3 linked regions of the Homo sapiens genome follow. The protein of the gene in region 1 purifies or fractionates together with the protein of each later gene. This does not show direct contact. Each region holds a gene or a part of one and is shown in the gene's direction. Other genes may lie near its edges.

The links.
Region 2: the proteins of NMUR2 (region 1) and LRRC8E purify together in Homo sapiens (affinity purification with mass spectrometry; 2 studies listed by BioGRID and IntAct, with this or other methods). This does not show direct contact.
Region 3: the proteins of NMUR2 (region 1) and SLC12A9 purify together in Homo sapiens (affinity purification with mass spectrometry; 2 studies listed by BioGRID and IntAct, with this or other methods). This does not show direct contact.

The regions. Positions count from the first base shown.
Region 1 is NC_000005.10:152,403,109-152,406,856, reverse strand, and holds the start of NMUR2 (neuromedin-U receptor 2), read left to right. Parts: upstream 1-1,577; 5' UTR 1,578-1,743; coding exon 1,744-2,469; intron 2,470-3,748. UniProt on the Homo sapiens protein: Receptor for the neuromedin-U and neuromedin-S neuropeptides.
Region 2 is NC_000019.10:7,895,010-7,898,657, forward strand, and holds part of LRRC8E (volume-regulated anion channel subunit LRRC8E), read left to right. Parts: exon of another isoform or gene 1-330; intron 331-589; 5' UTR 590-594; coding exon 595-732; intron 733-3,648. UniProt on the Homo sapiens protein: Non-essential component of the volume-regulated anion channel (VRAC, also named VSOAC channel), an anion channel required to maintain a constant cell volume in response to extracellular or intracellular osmotic changes.
Region 3 is NC_000007.14:100,859,118-100,862,765, forward strand, and holds part of SLC12A9 (solute carrier family 12 member 9), read left to right. Parts: coding exon 1-44; intron 45-767; coding exon 768-925; intron 926-1,032; coding exon 1,033-1,115; intron 1,116-2,020; coding exon 2,021-2,145; intron 2,146-2,274; coding exon 2,275-2,467; intron 2,468-2,619; coding exon 2,620-2,794; intron 2,795-3,563; coding exon 3,564-3,648. UniProt on the Homo sapiens protein: May be an inhibitor of SLC12A1. Seems to correspond to a subunit of a multimeric transport system and thus, additional subunits may be required for its function. May play a role in lysosomal ion flux and osmoregulation.

The DNA.
Region 1 (3,748 bases):
TTTGAAGTACAAGAGAAATAAATCTGTATTGTTTAAAACCACCAAGATATGTCAATCATTTGTTACAGCAGCGTAAACTATCTTAACTTGAGAGATGACTTATTCTTGGACAAGTCACTTTCCCTCTCTAATTTTTAACGTCATAATCTGATTTAACAAATAAAGGGAAAAAATTAACATTTAGTGAGCATCTCTTAAGTATAAGTTGCTTCGTTATATATAATTTAATTTAGTCTTCTCAATGACCATAAAAGGTATTATCTCCTGCAAAAATATTCCTAAATCCAAAGAAATCTCTCAACTCCACTGCTCATAGAATCCAAGCCACTACTATGTCTTACTAGCCTCTTACCTACCTTCTGTTAAAATTTCTCCCTCGTTAATTCTCCAGTGCAAAATCTTTTAAAGACTTCTCCCTGCCATTTGAATCAGAGCTAAACTCTCTTCCATGGCCTATAAGAGTTTACATGAACCTGTACCTGCCAGCCACTTCAATCTAAGCATTCATACTTTGCTGACCACTTATTAAATTCCAGTTATTCTGGTCTTCCTGATATTTTTAAAACCTATCCAGCTTGTTTCTGCCTCAGGACCTTTGCACTTGCTATTACTTTTGCTGAGTAATACACTTCCCTTAGCTCTTTCATGACTGACTTCATCATTCAGACCTCAGCTAAAGTGACATCTCCTGAGATAAGTTTTCTTTCACCATCCTTGATAAATAATTATTTATCAATTACTATCTGAAATTATATTATTAATTTATTCATTTGCTTGTGTGTTTTCAGAATTCCCTACTGCAAGAAAAGCTCCACTAGGGCAGAGACCTTGTCTTGCTTGTACACTAGTGTTTCTACAAAGCTTAGAACATTCCCTGGCAAATAGTGAATCCTCAAGAAGTTATTGTGGAACGCAATCGAATTAATGATGCAGATAAGGAAATAAGCCTCTAAGAGTTTGGGTAACTGTGCCAACTTTCCTAAATTTCTATGAGTGTTCCTAATTCTGAAGTCCATTTGCCTTTTGCTTACAGCAAAGCTCTGCTGAGACTGAAGAGTCAGTTAGCAGTCAGGGCTAGGCACTGTGCATGCGCCCTTTCAGGCTTCGGATTCTATCGTTGATGCAGTTAAAACCAAAAAGTCACATTAATCATGTTATCACATTAATCCCCAGAGAACCCTGAATTTCCAGTGGAACAAGATAACTTGAGAAATCTATTGATCTCCTATTTTCATCATGCTGTACGGCTGACAAGGGTTAGTGGAGATTGGTATTCTTTTGCCCATGGCCCTGCAACTTTAATTTCTATGTCTACCCAGATTCCCACAACTTTGCAACCTGCATTGCTCAAAGTGCCCATCCATGAAGTTCGAGTGGCTTCTTTTGTGTCAGCTCTGCCTTCCCAGCTCCTTCCCATTCAGGGAGAGGTCTCTGCCTCCTCCCCTGCTTCCTGACTCGAAGCCAGCACCCCTCTCCTCCAGTGCAGCCTAACACACTCTCATTGGCCCTCAGCCTGTCAAGGGGAGGGGCTTGTGTCTCCGGGGCTCTTCAAAAGGGATCGGCGGTCCAGGCAGCCTAACCTGGAGGGTGAAACACTCACTCTCTCCCAGCCTTCCTTACGAAGCCTGTGACTTTCGTGACTGCTTTCTCTTTTTTGTTTTCCTTTTTTCTTTTTTTTTTTTTTTTCCTGGCTCAGCTTGAAACAGAGCCTCGTACCAGGGGAGGCTCAGGCCTTGGATTTTAATGTCAGGGATGGAAAAACTTCAGAATGCTTCCTGGATCTACCAGCAGAAACTAGAAGATCCATTCCAGAAACACCTGAACAGCACCGAGGAGTATCTGGCCTTCCTCTGCGGACCTCGGCGCAGCCACTTCTTCCTCCCCGTGTCTGTGGTGTATGTGCCAATTTTTGTGGTGGGGGTCATTGGCAATGTCCTGGTGTGCCTGGTGATTCTGCAGCACCAGGCTATGAAGACGCCCACCAACTACTACCTCTTCAGCCTGGCGGTCTCTGACCTCCTGGTCCTGCTCCTTGGAATGCCCCTGGAGGTCTATGAGATGTGGCGCAACTACCCTTTCTTGTTCGGGCCCGTGGGCTGCTACTTCAAGACGGCCCTCTTTGAGACCGTGTGCTTCGCCTCCATCCTCAGCATCACCACCGTCAGCGTGGAGCGCTACGTGGCCATCCTACACCCGTTCCGCGCCAAACTGCAGAGCACCCGGCGCCGGGCCCTCAGGATCCTCGGCATCGTCTGGGGCTTCTCCGTGCTCTTCTCCCTGCCCAACACCAGCATCCATGGCATCAAGTTCCACTACTTCCCCAATGGGTCCCTGGTCCCAGGTTCGGCCACCTGTACGGTCATCAAGCCCATGTGGATCTACAATTTCATCATCCAGGTCACCTCCTTCCTATTCTACCTCCTCCCCATGACTGTCATCAGTGTCCTCTACTACCTCATGGCACTCAGAGTGAGTATCTAGGCTGGGGTGGCCTGAGGCAGCATCCCTTCTTTTTTCACAGGCTCAAAGTTCAGAGAAAAACTTAGAATTGGGGAAATTCAGAAATGGAAGGGAACAGAGGGAAAATAGAATGAGCTCAGATGGGAAATTGAGACTTAAAAGGACTTGCCTCAAATGAGATGAATGGTAACCACAACTATTTATCATTTCCTTTAGCTCGTCTTCTATTTTTCTTCCCTCTATTCTTGGGGTTCTCGTATCTAAATGTTCCTAAGAATCATGCAGAAAACTTACTTTGGGAGCAATATGCATACCTCACCCCCAGGAAAATGGGATTCAGAAGGTCTGAGGTGGAGCCTCATTTTAAATAAGCACATCAGGTGATCTGGGGTGAGGTGGCCACACTTTGAGAGACTTCTCCACATCCTGTTGTCACTTTCCAGCCCCTGGCCACTGCCTGCATTGAGATTTTCCTGTACACCAACTTGGTCTGAGTATAACACAAACTATCCCTGCCTATTTTGTAGTCCAAGATAGGTATTCAGTTTTAAAATCAGACATTTACTGTGGTTGCTCCGACCCTTTCATTAAAATGAGGTTGAAACAAAACAAAATAAAACTATATATATTATATGTATAGTTACATATATAATATATAGTCATATATATAATATATAGTTATATATAATATATAATCATATATATTAATGACATGACTGAGATAACTTGAGCTTCTTTTGAGCAGGTGCAGATTGAGAGATAAGGAAGTAAACAGCACATGAGATAGAGTGAAAAAATGTGAATAAGAGCTTATCTGAAATTAAGAAAAAGATATCACTTATTTTGCAACATATATAATTAGAGGTTCTTTTCCTATGTTTATGGTGGTAAACTGATTTCTTTTTCAGAAGGGGGGTGTCTAAATTAGCTGAGAGAAACTATTTTTAATAAGGGTAGGAATTAGTCTATATAATTCCTCTCTGGTATATTCTGCACCCAAATTCATGAAGAGAAAAGTTCTTCACAATGACAATTTTACACCCACTTAAGGGAGGTATTATAGCTTGTGTAGTAAACAGTTACGAGACCATTTAGACTCCCAGATCTACAGCTGACATATAATATGCCTTTAGGCAAGCCACATCATTCTCCTGGAATTAGTTTTCCCGTGTATAAAATGAAAAGGTCACATCAGATCCTATCTATGTCCCCTGTAGCTCTAACAGTCTATTATTCCTTTAAAAAAAGAAAAAAAAACACCTGTGAGCTGAAGTAATGTGAGTTTTAA
Region 2 (3,648 bases), on another chromosome or scaffold:
AGTCCCTGCCCCTGGGGCCCTAGTAACCAGAGCCAGGCTCCAGCCGGCTTTTCCGGTTAGAGGTTGGAGGTGGTGCCCAGAGTGCCCCTGGAGGGGGTGGAGGGGCCTACGCCCCGGAAGTCCTGAGCCTTGGAACGCTTTCAGGCCTGGTGGCGGTGGGAGCCGGGGCTGGCCCAGACGCTGAGTGTCTGCAGTCAGGGAGCATCGAGGCAGATGTTTTCAGGCCTTGGTGTCAGGGGTGGGAGAGGGATGCCTCGTTTTGGGGAGGGGGCCACCCGAGGAGGCTGGAGGGCGGCGGCCCTGTGGACTATCCCTCATGTGCTCTTCGAGGTCAGACAAGTCAGATCAGGTGCAGGGGTGCCCAGAGGGGAACAGTGGCCGCTTGGTTCTGGGCAGGTGGTGACGTCTGCATGGAGGGTGACTAAGGCCAGGCTAAGAGGGAAGTGGGGGCACACACTTTGGTGGTTTGGACAAGTTTGGGCAGGGAGGGTCACAGGCCTGCCTGTGTCCGGCTCCTCGGAGGACCCCCTGCAGAGCCTCCCATCCTGAGGGTCTCTCTCTACACCCCCCGTCTCGTCCCGTCCCACAGGCAGCATGATCCCAGTGGCCGAGTTCAAGCAGTTCACGGAACAGCAGCCTGCGTTCAAGGTGCTCAAACCCTGGTGGGACGTGCTGGCCGAGTACCTCACCGTGGCCATGCTCATGATTGGGGTCTTTGGCTGCACCCTCCAGGTGAGGCCCTCCCCTGGCAAGGGGGTGTGACCAGAGGGGCGGGGCAGGTGTCTGGGGAAGTCGGGAAGCCTTCTCATCACCCAAGAAAGAGAGGAAACTGAAGACAGAGCCCCACTCAAAGGCCAATCCAGACCCCTTATCTTCCTTACCTCCATAGCCAGGAGCACCGGAGTCCCCACATTGCTATGCCATTCCATATCTTTTTTTCTTTTTTGAGACGGAGTCTCACTCTGTCACCCAGGCTAGAGTACAGTGGCATGATCTCAGCTCCCTGCAACATCTGCCTCCCGGGTACAAGCGGTTCTCCTGCCTCAGCCTCCTGAGTAGCTGGGATTACAGGCGCCCACCACCACGCCTGGCTAATTTTGGTAGTTTTTTAGTAGAGATGGGGTTTCACCATGTTAGCCAGGCTGGTCTCGAACTCCTGACCTCAAGTGACCTGCCTGCCTGGGCCTCCCAAAGTGTTGGGATTACAGGCCTGAGGCACTGCACCTGACCCTTTCTTTTTTTTTCTTTTTTTTTTTTTTCTTTTTGGCTAAAAAGAGACAGGGGCCGGGCATGGTGGCTCACACCTGTAATCCCAGCACTTTGGGAGGCCAAGGTGGGAGTATCACTTAAGGCCAGAAGTTTGAGACCAGCCTGGCCAACACGGTGAAAACCCGTCCTTACTAAAGACACAAATATTAGCCAGGCATGGTGGTGGACACCTGTAATCCCAGCTACTTGGAAGGCTGAGGCAGGAAAATTGCTTGAACCTGGGAGGTGGAGGTTGCAGTGAGCCGAGATCATGCCACTGCACTCCAGCCTGGGTGACAGAACGAGACTCCATCTTAAAAAAAATAAAATAAAATAATTGAAAATTAAAATAAAGAAACACGGTCTCATTCTGTCATCCAGGTTGGAGTGCAGTGGCATGATCACAGCTCACTGCAGCCTTGAACTCCTGGACTCAAGTGATCTTCCCGCCTCAGCCTCCAGAGTAGCTGGGATTACAGGCACACACCACCACGTCCAGCTAATTTTTAAATTTCTTGTTGACACAGGGGTCTTGCTATGTTGCCCAGGCTTGTCTCGGACTCCGGGCCTCAAGCCATCCTCCCACCTCGGCCTCCCAAAGTGCTGGGATTACAGGTGTGAGCCACTGTGTCCAGCCCCATATTTTCACAATGCTCAGTTTTATCCCTAGAATCTGGAAAGGACTGCAGTTGCTATATGAGTTTGTTACTTCTGTTGTAACAAAGTAGCAGGGATTGAGTGGCTTAAATAACCAGAAATGTTTCCTCTTCTGGGTCTGGTTCTGGAGGCCAGAAGTCTGAGATCAAGGCGTCAGTTGTCAGTGAGGGAGAATCTTCCAAGCTTCCCTCCTAGATTTTTGCAGCTCCAAGAGTTCCTTGGCTTGTAGATGACATTCTCCCAGTATTTTTCTTTTTCTTTTTCTTTTTTTTTTAGACAGAGTCTCCCTCTGTCGCCCAGGCTGGCATGCAGTGGTGCGATCTCGGCTCACTGCAACCTCCGCCTCCCGGGTTCCAACAATTCTCCTGGCTTAGCCTCCCAAGTAGCTGGGATTACAGGCGTGTGCCACCACGCCCGGCTAATATTTTTTTGTATTTTTAGTAGAGACGTGGTTTCAGTATGTTGGCCAGGCTGGTCTTGAACTCCTGACCTCGTGATCAGGATCAGCCTGCCTCTGTCTCCCAAAGTGCTGGGATTACAGGCATGAGCCACTGCGCCTGGTCGAGACAGTTTTTTTTTTTTTTTTTTAAGCAAGCTCTGTCACCTAGGCTGGAGTGCAGTGGCGCAATAATAGCTCACTGTAACCTTGTACTCCTGGCCTCAAGCAATCCTCCTCTACCACCCCCGCTTGGCCCCCCCTCCCACTGCCTCCCAAATCACTGGGATTACAAGCCTGAGCCACCGCACCCAGCCTCTCCCTGTATCCTCACGTCATCTTCTGTCTTTGTGTCTGTCTCTGTGTCTATGTTTCCCCTTTCTCTAAGGCGCAGTCATACTGGGCCCACCCTACTGGCTTTGTCTTGACTACCTCTGCAAAGACCCTATTACCAAACAGGAGCCGCCTGACCCAGCTCAAATAATACCACATTCTAAGGATTCGGAGTTGGGACTTCAACATCTTTTGTGGGGACACGATTCAACCCAGCTCCTTTTCTCAGACAAAGACCAGTGCTTTGTCAGTTGTGGTGGCTCATTCCTGTAATCCCAGCACTTTGGGAAGCTGAGGCAGGGGATCACTTGAGGCCAGGAGTTCGAGAGCAGCCTGGCCAACATGGTGAAACCCCATCTCTACTAAAAATACAAAAATTAGCTAGGCGTGGTAGTGCGTGCTTGTAGCCCCGGCTACTCAGCAGGCTGAGGCAGGAGAATTGCTTGAACCAGGAGGGGAAGGTTGCAATGAGCCAAGATTGCACCACTGCACACAGCCTGACAGAGCGAGACTCTTGTCTCAAAAAAAAAAACCAAAAAAAAAAAAAACAGTGCTTAGAGGTTTAGCAAAACTCTTCCAAAATCACAGCTGGCTGGCAACAGTCAGAGATGGGGGGTGCGGGGGGTCTCCCACCTTCAGCCTGCTTTTTCCCCATCCCCCTCATTTTCTCTCTTTTTTAAATTAATTTATTTTTGAGACAGAGGCTCACTCTGTCACCCAGGCTGGAGTACAATGGCGCGATCTCGGCTCACTGCAACCTCCATCTTCCGGGTTCAAGCGATTCTCCTGCCTCAGCCTCCCGAGTAGCTGGGATTACAGGTGCCCACCACCATGCCCGGCTAATTTTGTATTTTTAGTAGAGACAGGGTTTCACCACGTTGGCCAGGCTGGTCTCGAACTCCTGACCTAAAGTGATCCACTCGCCTTGGCCTCCCAAAGTGCTAGGATTACAGCCCTCATTCTCTTTTGCTCCT
Region 3 (3,648 bases), on another chromosome or scaffold:
GTCTATGTCCTGCTTTTCTTTCTCTCCAGCTTCACTTGTGACAGGTGTCTGGGGAGGGATGGGGGTGGAGTGTCGAACAAGATTGGTGCACCTGGGTCACCAAGGGGAAACACAGGCTGGGGGACTGGGAAGCAGAAACCCAGCTTGTTGGGGTGGAGGGTGGCTACCGGCGATTGACAACCTATAGCCAGCAGCTGCCATGGACCCAGTACTGTTGCAGGCACTTAGCTTGGGAGTGAGGGTGGGTAGTGGCTTTCTACCCAGTTTGCATTTCCACAAATATTTGGCCTCTTGTGCATATACCATTAGGTATGACAGCCGGGTGCGGTGGCTCACACCTGTAATCCCAGCACTTTGGGAGGCTGAGGCAGGAGGATCGCTGGAGCCCAGGAGTTCCAGACCAGCCTGGGCAACAGAGCAAGAGCCTCCCCCCAAATACAAAAATTAGCCAGGTGTGATGGCAAATGCTTGTAGTCTTGGCTACTTGGGAGGCTGAGGTGGGAGGATTGCTTGAGTCCAAGAGGTCGAGGCTGCAGTGAGCTATGATTACAGCACTGCACTTTAGCCTGGGGGTTGGAGTGAGACCTTGTCTCTTAAAAAAAAGGAAGGAATGACCACTGAGTGATTAAATCCAAGGCTGCCCAATGAATACCAGGCATATCCCTTTAGCACATTTGATATCTGAGTCTGATCCTTAAGATCGGGGCTGGAGATTTTCTTACCCCGTGACGCATGATCATCCGTGTCCTCCTTTTCCTCCTTCCTAGGACCCTGCTGCAGGAAGACTATGGGTTCTTCCGCGCCATCAGCCTGTGGCCCCCACTGGTGTTGATCGGAATCTATGCCACAGCGCTCTCAGCGTCCATGAGCTCGCTCATTGGTGCCTCCCGCATCCTCCATGCCCTGGCCCGGGATGACCTCTTTGGTGGGTTCTCTGCCTCCTTGCTGGCTTGGAGCACGCCCTCCCTTGTCTGTCTCTCCGTCCCCGCTGAGCCCTGGCTGATGTGTCTGCTGTGGATTCTGTTTTTCTAGGCGTGATCTTGGCACCGGCCAAGGTTGTGTCCCGAGGGGGAAACCCCTGGGCAGCTGTACTTTATTCTTGGGGCCTGGTGCAGGTGAGCCTTCTTCTTCAAGGGGCCCTTTCCCTCACCCCACCAGCTGGCAGGATGGGGGTGCAGTTAGATGCAGGCTGGGAGACAAATGTAAAGACAAATGCGTATGCACTTGGGGTTGCACTGGCACTCTGCAGGGTTCACTGGCACTTTGTGGGGTTCACCAGCACCTTGCAGGTTGCCCCAGTGCTTTGCAGAGTTCATTGGCACCCTGGGAGGTTCACTGGCACTTTTTGGGGTACACGGGCATTGTGCAGGGTTCACTGACACTTTTTGGGGTATACTAGTATTTTTCAGTATTCACTGGCACTTTGTGGGGTGCCCCAGCACTTTGAGGGATTCACTGGCACTCTGTGGGATGTACCAACACTTTGTGGGGGTTCACTGATACTTTGGAGGTTTGGTGGCACTCTGTGGGAGTGCATTGGCCCTTTCTGGGGATCACTGACATTGGGGGTGCACTTGCACTTTACAGGGCTCACGGGCACTTTTCAGGGTTCATTGACACTTTGGGGTGCACTGGCACTCTCTGGGGTTCATTGACACTTTGGGGGTGCGCTGGCACTTTGCATGGTTCACTGGTACTTTCCAGGGTTCACTGACACTTTGGGGGTACACTGGCACTTTCTGGGGTTCACTGACACTGGGGATACACTGGCACTTTTGGGGTTTAATAGCATTTTAGGGGCTCATTGACACTTTGGGGGTGCACTGGCACTTTTGGGGTTTAATAGCATTTTGGGGGTTCATTGACACTTTGGGGGTGCACTGGCACTTTGCAGGGTTCACTGGCACTTTCTGGGGCTCATTGACACTTTGGGGTACACTGGCATTCTTTGGTGTTCACTGGCATTTTGGGGGTGCACTGGCACTTTGGAACAACGGCACGCCTCTTGGCCCTTGCCCAGCTGGTGCTCCTGGCTGGGAAGCTGAACACACTGGCTGCTGTGGTCACTGTCTTCTACCTGGTGGCCTATGCTGCCGTGGACCTGTCCTGCCTGAGCCTGGAGTGGGCCTCGGCCCCCAACTTCCGGTGAGAGACTCAGATCTGTGTCCCCAGAGAGAAGAAGGGAGGACTCGGGCTCAGGCGTGGGGCTGGGGACTGCAGCCTCGTGTGCGGCCTGCCCTGAGTTTCTGTCCCTCCTCCCCTCCATGCCCGCAGCCCCACCTTCAGCCTGTTCTCCTGGCACACCTGCCTGCTGGGGGTGGCCTCCTGCCTGCTCATGATGTTCCTCATCAGTCCTGGCGCGGCTGGTGGCTCCCTGCTCCTCATGGGTCTGCTGGCTGCCCTGCTCACCGCGCGAGGAGGCCCCAGTAGCTGGGGCTATGTCAGCCAGGCCTTGCTTTTCCACCAGGTATGGGGAGCTGGTGGGGCGGTGGGGAAATGGGAGGTGGTCAAAGAACCCCCTCTCTCTTTGGCTGGAGTTGGTGCTCCCGTCCAGGAGGCGCTGAACGGGGCTGTGCATTTGATCCTGCCACTTCCCCACTGCCTCACCCCTATACCCAGGTGCGTAAGTATCTGCTTCGGCTGGACGTCCGGAAGGATCACGTGAAGTTCTGGCGGCCCCAGCTGCTGCTCCTGGTGGGGAACCCCCGGGGCGCCCTGCCTCTGCTGCGGTTGGCCAACCAGCTTAAGAAGGGGGGGCTGTATGTGCTGGGCCACGTCACCCTGGGAGACCTCGGTGAGCTGCCCTCCCACTCACTCACTCACTCCCATCCTTCTCTCCCCCTACCTTTTTTTTTTTTTTGAGATGGAGCTTCGTTCTGTTGCCCAGGCTGGAGTGCAGTGGGACGATCTTGGCTCACTGCAACCTCCACCTCCCAGGTTCAAGTAATTCTCCTGCCTTAGCCTCCTGAGCTGGGATTACAGGCACACACCATCATGCCTGGCTAGTTTTTGTATTTTTAGTAGAGAAGGGGTTTCACCATGTTGGCCAAGCTAGTCTCGAACTCCTGACCTCAAGTGCTCCGCCCATCTCGGCCTCCCAAAGTGCTGGAATTGTAGGTGTGAGCCACCACGGCCAGAACCCCTCCCCCGCTTTTTTTTGAGACAAGGTCTTGCTCTGTCACCCAGGCTGGAGAGCAGTGGTGCCATCATAGTTCACTGCAGCCTCAACCTCTTGGGCTCAAGTAATCCTCCTGCCTTGGCCTCCTGAGTAGCTGGGACTACAGGTGTGTGCCACCAGGCCTGGCTCATTTGTAGAGATGAGGTCTCTTTATGTTTCCCAGGCTGTCTGGAACTCCTGGCTCAAGCAGCCCTCCCACCTTGGCTTCCCAAAGGGCAGGGATTACAGGCATGAGCCCCGACACCAGCCCCTCTGCCCCTTTTATCCTTTCCCATGACCCCTCCAAGTAGCCATAGCCCTGCCCAGGCCCGTCTGTGATTTGGACTCTAGGAGACATTGAGTTTGGACAACACTGGCTACCTTCCTTTCCTTATCTTCTCTGTAGACTCCCTGCCCTCGGACCCTGTACAGCCGCAGTATGGGGCATGGCTCAGCCTGGTGGACCGTGCCCAGGTGAAGGCTTTTGTGGA